2 linked regions of the Homo sapiens genome follow. The protein of the gene in region 1 interacts with the protein of each later gene in a biochemical or structural test. Each region holds a gene or a part of one and is shown in the gene's direction. Other genes may lie near its edges.

The links. The genes of interacting proteins can lie anywhere in the genome.
Region 2: the proteins of BMP6 (region 1) and BMPR1A form a complex in vitro, tested with the Homo sapiens proteins (one study listed by BioGRID).

The regions. Positions count from the first base shown.
Region 1 is NC_000006.12:7,722,088-7,729,284, forward strand, and holds the start of BMP6 (bone morphogenetic protein 6 preproprotein), read left to right. Parts: upstream 1-4,011; 5' UTR 4,012-4,868; coding exon 4,869-5,532; intron 5,533-7,197. UniProt on the Homo sapiens protein: Growth factor of the TGF-beta superfamily that plays essential roles in many developmental processes including cartilage and bone formation.
Region 2 is NC_000010.11:86,920,464-86,927,730, forward strand, and holds part of BMPR1A (bone morphogenetic protein receptor type-1A isoform 3 precursor), read left to right. Parts: intron 1-1,056; coding exon 1,057-1,232; intron 1,233-2,912; coding exon 2,913-3,043; intron 3,044-3,130; coding exon 3,131-3,256; 3' UTR 3,257-7,267. UniProt on the Homo sapiens protein: On ligand binding, forms a receptor complex consisting of two type II and two type I transmembrane serine/threonine kinases.

The DNA.
Region 1 (7,197 bases):
TAAATCGATATTTTAAAAATTTGATCGAATTATTATACTTTGAAATTAACATTAAGAAGTACTCAGGTCCTTATGCTAATAGTAAAGATAAAAAGTTGGTCTTTGGAGTGGAACGTCTCAATAATTCAAGGAGGCTAGACCTCAGTCTTTTAAACATGACAGCTACACAGTTTACAAGATTTTTTTTTTTTTTTTTTGAGACAGGGTCTTGCTGTCACCCAGGCTGGAGTGCAGTGGTGTGATCTGGTGATCTGGGCTCACTGTAACCTCCACCTCCCTGGCTCAAGCGATCCTCCCACCTCAACCTCCTGAGGAGCTGGAACTACAGGCGTGCACCACCACACCCGGCTAATTTTTGTATTTTTTTTTTTTTTTTTTTTTTGTAGAAACAAGGTCTTACTAGGTTGCCCAGCCTGATCTCGAGCTCCTGGGCTCAAGTGATCTGCCTGCCTCAGCCTCTCAAAGTGTTGCTATTACATACCTGGCCAAGATATTTTTATTAAGTTAATTCTAAAAGCAGCAACTTACATCTTCAGGAAATGCAGTTGAAAGGGACCAATGTAAAATTTAATATAAAATCCAAGACTGAAGTTGCAGTTTATTGCTAATAAGGTAATATAGAATATGTGTTTAATATGTCAAATTAATAAACAGCATGTTTACAAAATAGAAGCTATTTGGTCAAGTGTGTTATAAATGTATAACAGAAACCCTCAGAATATATAAGGAACAAGGACAACTACAGGTTTAAAGGATTTGTTGCGTGAATTACATGGTGCCTTAATAAACACTTGGAGACAGAATTCCCGTCCTATTCCCACTATCACTGGAAGTATGGGATGAACCTGTGCTTTCTGGTGAGGGCTCCTCATTTCTTCATTAAGTGGGGCAGGGAGATGGGACAGGCAACGTATTGCCAGAAAACTGAAGGCCATCTGCATGAAATGTCAGCCAAGCAACCAGATGTTTGATTGGATTGGCTCCCACATCCGGCTTCTTGATCGAATTCCTCCTCTTTCCACCCAGATGTTTTAGAAACACAGAGAACTTCATGAAGCTTGTTCCGGGCCCGCAGAGGAAGGGGCGGTAATATTTTGGTGTCCTGCAGGGGGCGAAGTTACCTCTAATTTTATCAAGTCGGTTCATACATTCCAGCGGACTTCAAAGCCCAGATCTGCTCCTGTCCCTCCAACTCCACCCACCCCATGCCTCCTCCTCTTGAATCACATGTGGACGTTGTCTAGCTCCCTGTCCTGAGGCTTCCAGGGGAGCACTCGGGCTGTCTAATGGGGAAGGGTCCCAGAAGCAGGGAGTAGACAAGGTGGGGGTTAGGGGATTTTTATCCACCTAGAGGTCCAACTGGCTTGGAGAAAGAGTAGTCCCAATTTCAAGGTTATTAAAATCCTAGAACTGTATCTCTTCCTGTCCCCTTTGTCCCAATGGATACAAGGGCTTGCCTGCATGTGTCCCGCAAACATGATGTGCACATGTTGGGAGCCATAGTGGACAGAAGAGGAGCACATCCTCAGTTGGATGTCACTGTCCTTATGATCATTGTAATGTCTCACTGCACAGTTTTTTTAGGAGCTTCTTCTGGCTCTTAAGGGAGATGTGCGTTCTCATGTTCATCACCTGGAGGTACTCTCGACACCTCCTCATTCTAGCCCCATTCGACAGAAACTGAGAATCCATCTTGGTGGAGTGAGGAGCCTGCAACAGACCTGAATCAGAGTTGCTGCTCAGATGTTTAGTTGATAGTCACTTTAGACTCATGTCACATGAACCCATCTACTTCTTAGTGTCTAAGGAAAGGGAGAGATGGCGTGCGTGTGTGTGCATGTGTGTGTGTGTCTTCTGCACTAGGTCCACCCCATAGATGCATACACAAGTTGAGTATCCCTTATCCAAAGTGCTTGGGACCAGAAGTATTTCAAATTTCAGATTTTTAGATTTTGGAATATTTGCATATACATAATGAGATACCTTAGGGATGGGATCCAAGTCTAAACATGAAATTCATTTATGTTTCGTATATATCTCATATACATAGTCTGAAGGTAATTTAATACAATATTTCAAATGATTTTGTGGATGAAAATTTTGACTGTGTTTTGACCATGTCCCATCCTATGAGGTCAGGTGTGGAATTTTCCATCTGAGGCATCATGTCAGCTCTCAGAAATCTTTAGATTTTGGAGCATTTTGGATGTCAGATTTTTGGGTTAGGGATGCTCAACCTCTACAATAGGTGGGTCACCCCTCGATTTTGTGTTTTAAATGACATAGCCCCACCAAGGTGCCCTCATCCATGCTTGAAATGTTGAGTTTCCTGTGTCTTCCCCACTGCCCTCGTAGGTAGAAAGTCTTTTACTCTGCCTGCATCTCACCAGAAGTCTTATGAGGAAGGTGCAACTAGGTTTAAAAAAGGAGGCTCTTGGCAGGAAGCCTAGGTGTATTTGCTGGAATTTCAGATCTTCTGAGCAGAGCTCTTGGCTGCTGTGGGGCACTGCAGTGAATTTATGTCCCTAACATGTTCCCTACAGAAAAAAGAAGTGACAGGGCTCTTGAATTCTGAGGGTCCGGGCATCCCAGACAAAGTATCGTATTATCTTTTCGGATGGAAGAAATCCCTGTAGAGATGGTTAAAGACTGGCATTCACATAAGTTTTGTGCCCTGAAATTCATAGCTATCAGATATTTGTAGAAATAAAGACTCTTCTAAATGACCACTTGTGTCTGGGCCAAGGCAGAACTAGAAAGAAGGACTCAGTGGGTAGTTGGAGTCAGTGGTGGTCTCTATTTACCCATGAGAAATAGATTCTTGGAAATAGGATAGGAATGCTTATAAGATTTGGACCAACAGAAAGCCTATGATCTCATAAATTCATGAATCCCACAGTCTATAATCTATTTGACTTCACTCTCAAATGCCTAGGACCATTTGGACTAAGGCTGGCAAGTCAGAAAATTGCAGTTTTTATTTTCAACTCCACACAATTTTCACCAAGTAAAAAACCTTCATGTTTTACGTGAATTTGCTTCTACGATCCATAGATGACTGGATGTTCTCGGGCGGGGTAAAGGCAAATGAATTTGTGTCCTCATTGGCAAATGGTGTTGGTGGTGGTGTTATCTTGTCTAAAATCCACAGGAACCTGTGTTTCAGGACCCTGTCTATTGTCCTGACCATTCAGAATGCATGCCAAGCCCCTGCTCTTCCTGGAGTTATCTTTATCACCTCTCCTCAAGTTTTATCTTGCACCATATAAGTCACATTGTATTTCAATATTAAAATGCAACATTAATAGATAAGCTGGAGAATCAAGACATTTCCAAGAAGACAGGGGACGCCTTTTCTAATATATCGTCTGATTACACCCTCTTTCTTTTGGGTGCTAGCTTAAGAAGCCAAACCAAAGCACAAATGAACAGAGAAGTCAACACATCCGACCCCAAACCCTCAGGACGCTGGCTTGGGTTACATGTGGCCCTCTCTGTGGTCAGTTTGTGAGTAGCCTCCCCGGAGGGTGTGTCCCAACTTCCAGCAGCTGCCGTGGAAAGCCACGTGTCCGCTAAACGCCTACATTACATCAATAAGAGAAACTAAGGAAGGGATGGAAAAGCTATCATTTTTCTTTTCTTCCTCAGTTCTGGCAGTATAGTGATTTAATCGCTGTTATTATTTTTATTTAGTTAAAGCATCAACTTAGGCCTTTTAAATGATGGTAAAAGAGAAAGCTTCAGATCGGGGTATTGGTCAGATCATTCTTACTAGCGATGACCTCTTCGCCTTTGGCACCTCGCGGCTCTTCGCATGCCTCCAAGAATTCCCGGGTCTTGAAACCTACGCGCGGCGGAGGCGACGCCTCTCGGGAGAGGGAGGGTGAAAGAAGGGGCGGGGCTATTTAAATAGCCCGCGAGCTTCGCGTCCCCATTGGCTGCCAGCCTGTCGGTTACCGCGGGGCGGGGAGTCCCGGGGCTGGAGTGAGGTACCTGAGCCGGGCGCGCAGCAGAAAGCCCACGTTGGCCGCTGCGGGGAGCGCGGCGTGGAGAGGCGGGAGACCGAATTCCGGCGCCGCCGCCGCGGCCGCTGCTCGGTGCACTAGCCCCCTTCCTTCCCATCCTTTCTGCGAGCGGGTTTGCTGGGCAGCCGGGCGACCGCCGAACGGAAAGCAAGATCCTCGCCGCCTCCGCTTGAGGAGGCGTGCGGCGCGCGGAGATTTTGAGTGGGAGCGACGGTGCCCGAGAGCTCAGGGGCGCGGAGTTCGTGAGCGAGAAGGAAGTTAAACCTCGCGGAATAGACTGGCATTTCGGGACGCCTTGTCGCCGCAGCCTGGGCCCTGCAACGGGGTAAACTTCATGGTGGCCCTGCGATCTGGGGAGGGGCGTGCGCCACGGTGATGCCGGGCATCTCCCGCAGCTCGTGAGCGGCCCCGCTCCCCGCTGCCCCGGGTCCCACTCAGTCGCCAGGGAGAGCGCGGGGCAGCGCACGTGTGCGGCCAGCGAGGCCCAGAGTGACCGCGCCGCGACTCGCAGGAGCCAGGGCGCAGGCTGCAGTGCAGCCCGGACTCAGACGCACCTGGCCTGGACCGCGCGCCTCTAGAGACCTGCGCGAGGCTGTGAGGCTCCCCTTCCTCCCCTCCAAGCGGTTCTCCTGGTGATCGCCCCTTCGCCACCTCTCTAGCCTGGGCAACTGGGGGCGCCCCGGACGACCATGAGAGATAAGGACTGAGGGCCAGGAAGGGGAAGCGAGCCCGCCGAGAGGTGGCGGGGACTGCTCACGCCAAGGGCCACAGCGGCCGCGCTCCGGCCTCGCTCCGCCGCTCCACGCCTCGCGGGATCCGCGGGGGCAGCCCGGCCGGGCGGGGATGCCGGGGCTGGGGCGGAGGGCGCAGTGGCTGTGCTGGTGGTGGGGGCTGCTGTGCAGCTGCTGCGGGCCCCCGCCGCTGCGGCCGCCCTTGCCCGCTGCCGCGGCCGCCGCCGCCGGGGGGCAGCTGCTGGGGGACGGCGGGAGCCCCGGCCGCACGGAGCAGCCGCCGCCGTCGCCGCAGTCCTCCTCGGGCTTCCTGTACCGGCGGCTCAAGACGCAGGAGAAGCGGGAGATGCAGAAGGAGATCTTGTCGGTGCTGGGGCTCCCGCACCGGCCCCGGCCCCTGCACGGCCTCCAACAGCCGCAGCCCCCGGCGCTCCGGCAGCAGGAGGAGCAGCAGCAGCAGCAGCAGCTGCCTCGCGGAGAGCCCCCTCCCGGGCGACTGAAGTCCGCGCCCCTCTTCATGCTGGATCTGTACAACGCCCTGTCCGCCGACAACGACGAGGACGGGGCGTCGGAGGGGGAGAGGCAGCAGTCCTGGCCCCACGAAGCAGCCAGCTCGTCCCAGCGTCGGCAGCCGCCCCCGGGCGCCGCGCACCCGCTCAACCGCAAGAGCCTTCTGGCCCCCGGATCTGGCAGCGGCGGCGCGTCCCCACTGACCAGCGCGCAGGACAGCGCCTTCCTCAACGACGCGGACATGGTCATGAGCTTTGTGAACCTGGGTAAGGATTTGGGGTAACGTAATGACGAGAACATTTCCCCCTTTTCAGTGTCCCGGGCCCAGGGGATGGAGTGAGGGGGTGGAGGAGCTCCCGGCGCGCGGGTCCCGCCTGGTGCGCCAGAGAACGCGGGGACAGGCAGGCTGTGCTCCCGCCACCTGCGCGGCGGTGGGCGGCACATGCGCTCCCCCGCGCCGCGGGCAGGGCTGCGCGCCGAGGCCCCCAGAGGCGGCTGGCCGGCCGGGCCGCGGGGCTCCGGGAGCGCTGTCCCCAGCGGGCGTGTATTTGCGGACTCCCTGAGCACGTTCCGCGCTTTTTTTCACTTCTGCCCAGCTCTGGCCAGGTTAACTCAACTGCAGCAGGAGAGTCCAGCCCGAGTGTGGCCATCCTGGGAAGAGGGCTCTTCAGTACGATTTTCCCCTCTAAACTGCCGCCTTTTGCCCCCTAACTTGGAGTGCAGTTTTCCCACCGAGACTTTTAGGGAATCCGACAGCGGCTGGGAACTTTGAAAACTTGGCATGAGTATGTTTAGAGGTATCCACGGCACTAGGGGAGGTTGCAGAGGGAAGTCCCAAAAGGACCGCGGAAGGCGCTCGGATCCCGGCCGGGCGGGGCTCGCTTCTGTTTGGGGCGGGATGAAAGCTCAACTGGGGTAATCCATCCTGTGCCCCGGCTCACATGCCCTTGGCCATTGTCCCCAAAGGCTGAACCTTTGATCAATGCAGCCCAAGCTGCACGGGCAGAGAAAGGGTGCGGGGTAGGGGCCGGGGTTGGGCGCTGAGCTCCTCTGAACCGGTTGCCAGGCAACAGAATGGAAATTCACGGGCGGCTAAATGGAGCTCCGCCACAAATGTTCTGTGGCAAACCCGGACCCAGTCACATCGCCCTTTCTCCCCCCTCCCACCCCACTGAGTTTTCTCATCTGTAAATGAGAAGGGTGCAGAGAAGACTCTTTTCTTCGGAGTCAGTGCCTCCGGTTTGCACTGCTTTTCATTCATAAGCTGACTTAGTTTAGCGCAGACATAGGATGGAGGGACGCGCTGTCAGCGGACAGATCATGGGTGCACTGGCTACGCCCGGGATGGTTGCAGCTGCGCGGCGGGGTGGGGCTTCACGGGCCTCCTTCCCATGTGAGACGGTGGTTGTGCCCAGGCCCTGAAGTGGGTGAGCAGACACTCGCCAAAGGAGCACACGGGTCTCCCAGCCACGTCAAAGACGCTCATCTTTTAACGGCATTACTTACTGGAATGATTCCCGCGTAGACTATCTGGGTGATTTCTTTACCAGCCTATCTATGATTCCCAACTCCACTGAGCTTTGAGGGAGAGAACATGGGGGGTAAGAGCCAAGGGAGGGTGTGGAGGCAGGGCGATTGGCATCCAAGTGGTGCAGAAATCCTCCTGGGAAATTCGTGAAACAGAATCTCACAGGAGTCCAGGCTCAGGGCCTGCCAATCTGGCTGCTTGCACTGCCCGGGGTTCTGATTGGACAAGAATTTTCACAATTTATTGGAACCAAATCCAAGGTTGAGCCACCTCCAGGAAGCATTCTAAGGAAATTCTCATGCCAGTCAATAAAATTTGTAGTGGGTGGGGGCCAGGGTGGCAGAGGACCAGCGCTGTTCCTTATTCTAACTTTTCTGCTGCTTCTGACTTAGTAAATTCCTCC
Region 2 (7,267 bases), on another chromosome or scaffold:
CTTTACATTTCAGAATTCATTTTAGGCTGTAATATAAAAGTACCAGTCTTTAAAACAACTGTAAGAGACATTTAAATCTGTTACAGTGTTCTGAGTCAGTGTAGTATTTGTTGGCTCAGATATTTATCAGATGCTATAGGAAAATACAACGCATTATATTGATCACTGCTTTAGAGTAATTATTACTAATTGTCAGTATGATCATGTAAACATTGCTAACAACAGAACTCTGTTGATGGGACCCATAAAGAAGAAAATGTAATCCTATGTCACAAAGCCTTAGTGTATCATATGAGAGTGGTAAAAGCAAGCGATTCCTCTTGTATTTTCATATTCACCACTTCTCAGACATAATTATCTACTACTTTATCTTTTTTTTTTCCTTTTCTTTTCTTTTTTTTTTTTTTTTTGAGAGAGATTCTCACTCTGTTGCCCAGGCTGGAGTGCAGTGGCATGGTCTCGGCTCACTGCAGTCTCCGCCTCCCAGGTTCAAGTAATTTTCGTGCTTCAGCCTCCCAAGTAGCTGGAATTATAGTCATGTGCCACCAACCCTGGTTAACTTTTGTATTTTATAGAGACAGTGTTTTACCATGTTGGCCAGGCTGATCTTGAACACCTGACCTCAGGTGATGCGCCCGCCTTGGCCTCCCAAAGTGCTGAGATTACAGGCATGAGCAACCGTGCCTGGCTTAACTTTATCTTATATTCAGTGTTGTCCTCTTTCTTAGACACCAGACTTATTTAGTGACAAAACCTGACCTGAACGGATGTGAGGTGTGTATTGCCCTTATCCAGTTGAGGAGGACTATCGGACTTAGTGTTTTGCTGTAGACACAGTACTGAGTACTGAGTTGGATTAAGAGTGCTGCCCCAACCCTGCTGAGGATGTCATGTAGTATGTAGCATGTATTTAAAGAAAAATCTGAAAAATGCTAAATTCCACAATGCATCTGGCCCCAAGGAGAAAAAGAAGCTTTTATAAAATAGGACAAAAATACAAGATAAACTATTTTATTTTTGGCCCTCAACTTGGACCTTGGCTTTCTTTTGTTTCAGTGACACAAATGAAGTTGATGTGCCCTTGAATACCAGGGTGGGCACCAAACGCTACATGGCTCCCGAAGTGCTGGACGAAAGCCTGAACAAAAACCACTTCCAGCCCTACATCATGGCTGACATCTACAGCTTCGGCCTAATCATTTGGGAGATGGCTCGTCGTTGTATCACAGGAGGTGGGAGTTTGAGTAGTTTCTGATTATGTTGATTTACTCATCATTTTAAAAATAACAGCTCCAGTTATATAACTTTTTAGTTTTTAATTTTTGTGGGCACATAGTAGGTGTATATATTATTGGATAAGGAGTTATTTTGATACAGGCATGCCATGTGTAATAATCACATCTTGGAGAATTGGATATCTGTCCCTTCAGACATTTATCCTTTGTTTCACCAACCAGTTATACTCCTTGAGTTATTTTTAAGTGTACAATTAAATTATTACTAACTGTAGTCCTCCCCGTTGTGCTATAAAATACCAAATACTTATTCATTCTTCTATTTTGTCTCTACTTATTAAACATCCCCCCCCATCTGCTGCTACCCTTCCCAACCTCTGGTAACCATCCTTCTGTTCTCCATGAGTTCAGTTGTTTTGATTTTTAGATCTCACAAGTAAGTGAGAACATGTGAAGTTTGTCTTTCTGTGCCTGGCTTATTTTACTTAACGTTATGACATCCAGTTCCTCCATGTTATTTCAGAAGGCAGAATCTCATTCTTTTTTCTGGCTGAATGATACTCCATTGTGTGTAGGTGCCACATTTTCTTGATGTGTTCATCTGTTGATGGTCACTTAGGTTGCTTCCACATCTTGGCTATTGTGAACAGTGCTGCAGCAAACATGAGGGTGCAGGTATCTCTTCGGTTAGCTGATTTCCTTTCTTTTGGGTATACACCTAGGAGTGCAATTGCTGGCAGTTACGTAATTTAGATGTCACATACGTCAGAGTCCCCAAGACCACCCCCAGGTTGTGCGATTTCACTTGAAGGACCACAGGACTCGGCATGTGGTTGTCCCAATGGCTAACATTTATCCCAGTGAAAGGATACAAATCAAAATCAGCCAAGTTTAGAAAACCAGGCGAGGCTTCCCAGAATCCTGTCCCAGCGGAGTCAGGGCGTGTGCTTCATTCCTCTTACTAGTTGTGACAACACATACAAAGTGTTCTCATTCGGGAAAGCTCCTTAGAGACTTGGCACCCAGAGATTTTACTGGAGGCTGGTCACATAGGCATCCTCTGCCTGGCATGTACCAGAATTCCAGCAGGAAAGCAGACGTGCAGTACACACCACATTGTTTGCACAAGCAGCCCAGGAGTGGTGAGTTACCCTCACCGTTTCCGGTAAGTTTTATATCCATGTAGGGAACTGTTTACCATTTGTGTACCCGGGCACTGGCCAAGGCCAAACCTTGCAAGCCGCCTTTCCTAAGGGAAGGTCTCAGGCCTGCTGTGTGAACCCTTATCTGCACCTCATAAGTCTTTCTACTGCAGAGCAAAATGAAACAAAATAATAAAAACTATTCATTAGTAGGAACAACCATATAAGTAAATAATTATACTTTAGGGTAAATGGCTGATTTCGCCTTGCTTATTTTTTTTAAGGAAGATTGATATGCCCTTTGTCGATGGACTCTATCACAGTTGTGATGACATCCCTGGTGGAGGTAGAGGAAATAGTTGGACATAAATAAGAGAAAAACATACATCTACTATTAAGAGTGAATCATAGTGTCTATATTTTTTCTTGTGTAAGAATCCGTTTTAGTTCCATAGTTTAGCAAAAGATGCTTACTAGATTGGTATATCTTGTCCAGCAACCATTTTTGTGCCCATGTTTTCTCATTCCCTTATAGGGATCGTGGAAGAATACCAATTGCCATATTACAACATGGTACCGAGTGATCCGTCATACGAAGATATGCGTGAGGTTGTGTGTGTCAAACGTTTGCGGCCAATTGTGTCTAATCGGTGGAACAGTGATGAAGTGAGTGGAACTCAGTCCCCTGAAGAAGTGATTCGTAAATGCCACCAAATATATTCTCTGCTCACTGAACATCTCTTTACTTTTCAGTGTCTACGAGCAGTTTTGAAGCTAATGTCAGAATGCTGGGCCCACAATCCAGCCTCCAGACTCACAGCATTGAGAATTAAGAAGACGCTTGCCAAGATGGTTGAATCCCAAGATGTAAAAATCTGATGGTTAAACCATCGGAGGAGAAACTCTAGACTGCAAGAACTGTTTTTACCCATGGCATGGGTGGAATTAGAGTGGAATAAGGATGTTAACTTGGTTCTCAGACTCTTTCTTCACTACGTGTTCACAGGCTGCTAATATTAAACCTTTCAGTACTCTTATTAGGATACAAGCTGGGAACTTCTAAACACTTCATTCTTTATATATGGACAGCTTTATTTTAAATGTGGTTTTTGATGCCTTTTTTTAAGTGGGTTTTTATGAACTGCATCAAGACTTCAATCCTGATTAGTGTCTCCAGTCAAGCTCTGGGTACTGAATTGCCTGTTCATAAAACGGTGCTTTCTGTGAAAGCCTTAAGAAGATAAATGAGCGCAGCAGAGATGGAGAAATAGACTTTGCCTTTTACCTGAGACTTTCAGTTCGTTTGTATTCTACCTTTGTAAAACAGCCTATAGATGATGATGTGTTTGGGATACTGCTTATTTTATGATAGTTTGTCCTGTGTCCTTAGTGATGTGTGTGTGTCTCCATGCACATGCACGCCGGGATTCCTCTGCTGCCATTTGAATTAGAAGAAAATAATTTATATGCATGCACAGGAAGATATTGGTGGCCGGTGGTTTTGTGCTTTAAAAATGCAATATCTGACCAAGATTCGCCAATCTCATACAAGCCATTTACTTTGCAAGTGAGATAGCTTCCCCACCAGCTTTATTTTTTAACATGAAAGCTGATGCCAAGGCCAAAAGAAGTTTAAAGCATCTGTAAATTTGGACTGTTTTCCTTCAACCACCATTTTTTTTGTGGTTATTATTTTTGTCACGGAAAGCATCCTCTCCAAAGTTGGAGCTTCTATTGCCATGAACCATGCTTACAAAGAAAGCACTTCTTATTGAAGTGAATTCCTGCATTTGATAGCAATGTAAGTGCCTATAACCATGTTCTATATTCTTTATTCTCAGTAACTTTTAAAAGGGAAGTTATTTATATTTTGTGTATAATGTGCTTTATTTGCAAATCACCCACTCCTTTACAACCATACTTTATATATGTACATACATTCATACTGTAGAAACCAGCTCATGTGTACCTCATATCCCATCCTTAAGAGAAGAAATGTTATAAAGTAGAACTAAATATAAATTTTCAGAATTAATGCATTCAAAGTAATATATCAAATCCAGGACTTTGTTAACTTCAGGTAAAAACTTCATTAGGGTAATATCATCTCAATTTTTTCAAATGAAAGGATTCTCTAATTAGAAATTTATATGTCAGAGCTGTTATAAATTTATCAACTGTCAAATATGTTCTGGACAGCTAAATCATTTGAGATTTTTGGTTTTTTGATTTCTATTCCCTAACTTGTGAAGACAATGAAAAATCAGGCAGAAATATTTAGTATCTAGTCAGTATCTGTAGCTACACTGTATAACTGTTCTTCAATAAAATGGTTCATATTTTATAGATGCCTTGTTATCTCAAGAAATCTGATTTACATAAACTTATACTTCTTTAATGCTTTTTAAATATTTATTCTGAGCAAACAATTCATGAGTACATCAAGTGAGATAGTTTTATTTGATTATAACATAAAATAAATGTGATTATATCACATCATCATCAAAAAGGTTTAAATTAAATGGGAGGAAATCAGCATATGTCCACCCATTACCAAAATTTGACTATCATTTAAGGTTAAAACTTACAAATTTGTCTGCACATCAAATTTCACAAATTTGAAAATTGCCTTAACCATTTTGATTAATAAGTTTCATCTGCCATAATTAAAGTCTGAAGTGTTCATCAAGATAAGTAAATTTGCATATGGATAATACCCAATAACTTGTTTTTTCAGAATTTTTCACCATATGTATACTGAGAAATACAAATATTTTAATCTGCGTTGCCGTATGATATGATTGCACTTAGAACACCCAATTTACTTAAATCTTGGTTTACTTTTGACTTGATACCATAATCTTTAAAATCATTTGTCATCTTTTTTTTTTTTTTTTTGAGACGGAGTCTCGCTCTGTCGCCCAGGCTGGACTGCGGACTGCAGTGGCGCAATCTCGGCTCACTGCAAGCTCCGCTTCCCGGGTTCACGCCATTCTCCTGCCTCAGCCTCCCGAGTAGCTGGGACTACAGGCGCCCGCCACCGCGCCCGGCTAATTTTTTGTATTTTTAGTAGAGACGGGGTTTCACCTTGTTAGCCAGGATGGTCTCAATCTCCTGACCTCATGATCCACCTGCCTCGGCCTCCCAAAGTTCATTTGTCATCTTAATAAAAATATAAAGACAGGCAAAGTTTATTGGAAATGTTCAAATGGTGTGTGGAAGCAAAAAATTACAGCCAGTATATGAGACCACTATTATGGTTTTTTAAAATTAACTTGGTCTAGTAAAAGTGATATCAAGAGTTAATCTTAGAAACTTGCTCAGTAAAAACATTTTCTAGTATAACATGTTCTTTAAAAAGCAAATGCTGCCGTCTTTGGAATCTTAATCTAAAAATGTGGCCGGGCGCGGTGGCTCACGCCTGTAATCCCAACACTTTGGGAGGCTGAGGCGGGTGGATCACAAGGTCAGGAGTTCAAGACCAGCCTGGCCAACATGGTGAAACCCCATCTCTACTAAAAATAAAAAACTCAGCCAGGCGTGGTGGCGGGTGCCTGTAATCCCAGCTACTCGGGAGGCTGAAGCAGGAGAATTGCTTAAAATCAGAAGGTGGAGGTTGCAGTGAGCTGAGATCGTGTCACTGCACTCCAGCCTGGGCAAAAGAGCGAAACTCCATCTCAAATAAACAAACAAATAAATAACAAAAAACAAAAATGTTGCATTAAACTTAGTTCTTGTCTCTCCTTTCCACTCTTATTCTTAAATCTGAAGCTCATCGACTAAGTGAAATATTTAAAGAATATGATAGGCCAGCAAGAAGAAGTATTATGTAGTACCATAGTTAGTAAATTCGTAAAACCTTGGAAGCCATTATTTGGTCCCACTTGCAATTTAGTGTTTTTGAAGTGTGTAGCTTCATTCAGATAGCTCTTTAAATAATTAAAATATAAAAGCAAACAACCCAAACTACCTGACTATAAACAGGAAAAGTTAACCCTCAAAGAGAGTTCTTGTGAATTCTCTTTATGCTGGCAAATAGCTCTAGGATTAAAGGCACATTAGGGTTTCCTTCAGTTTGTTTATTCTAAGCTTTTACTGTGCTTTTTACTGAACAAGTTTCTGATGTATAAAACTTGCATCTGATTTCTTTGGAAATATTTTCACAAAAGTTATTTTAATCAGTATTTTTACATTGCCTTTCCAGTGTCCAGAAGTGTTTCTAAACTTAGAAAGTGACCTATAGTTTTTTAAAATTATGTTTTCCTAGAACGTGCCAAATTTTGATTTACTCTAACAATCAGTACTTTTCTTCAGATGCTTTGTTCTGTTTAGAACAAAAATGCACTATAGTTTTTAAAGAATCATGCATCTTTGGGTTGGCCCAGGATCAAATTTGATATTGAATAATTTATTCCAGGGCAGCTTTCATAAACATACTTCATAGATGTTGTTTTGAAATGTTTCTAAATATCTAAAATCATTTCAACAGCAGAAATGATTTTTATTTTAACAAAAGATTATGATAGCCCTTGTAGTGTTTAAAAGTGGTCATATTTATTACTGACTTTGAGTCAGGTGTTAAAATAGCAGTGCCACAGCTCGTCTCTTGCCTTAGTGTGCTGCTGTGAGAGTCACAGTGGAAACTGCAGGGAGGAGGTGTGTTCCTAAGAACCAAAATCCAGCACAGCATCCTGTGAAGCCACGTGTAATGATGGTCCCATAAGGAAAGTATGTGAATATGGCTCTTGTAAAGGATTAACTATTGTAATTTTAGCTTATGCTCTGTATTCTGTTTTCTATGGAATTATTTAAGCCCTTTTAGTGACCTTTGTCCTGGCCCATTTAAAAACTAAAATGTAGTATATATTGTATAAAATGGAAATATCATTA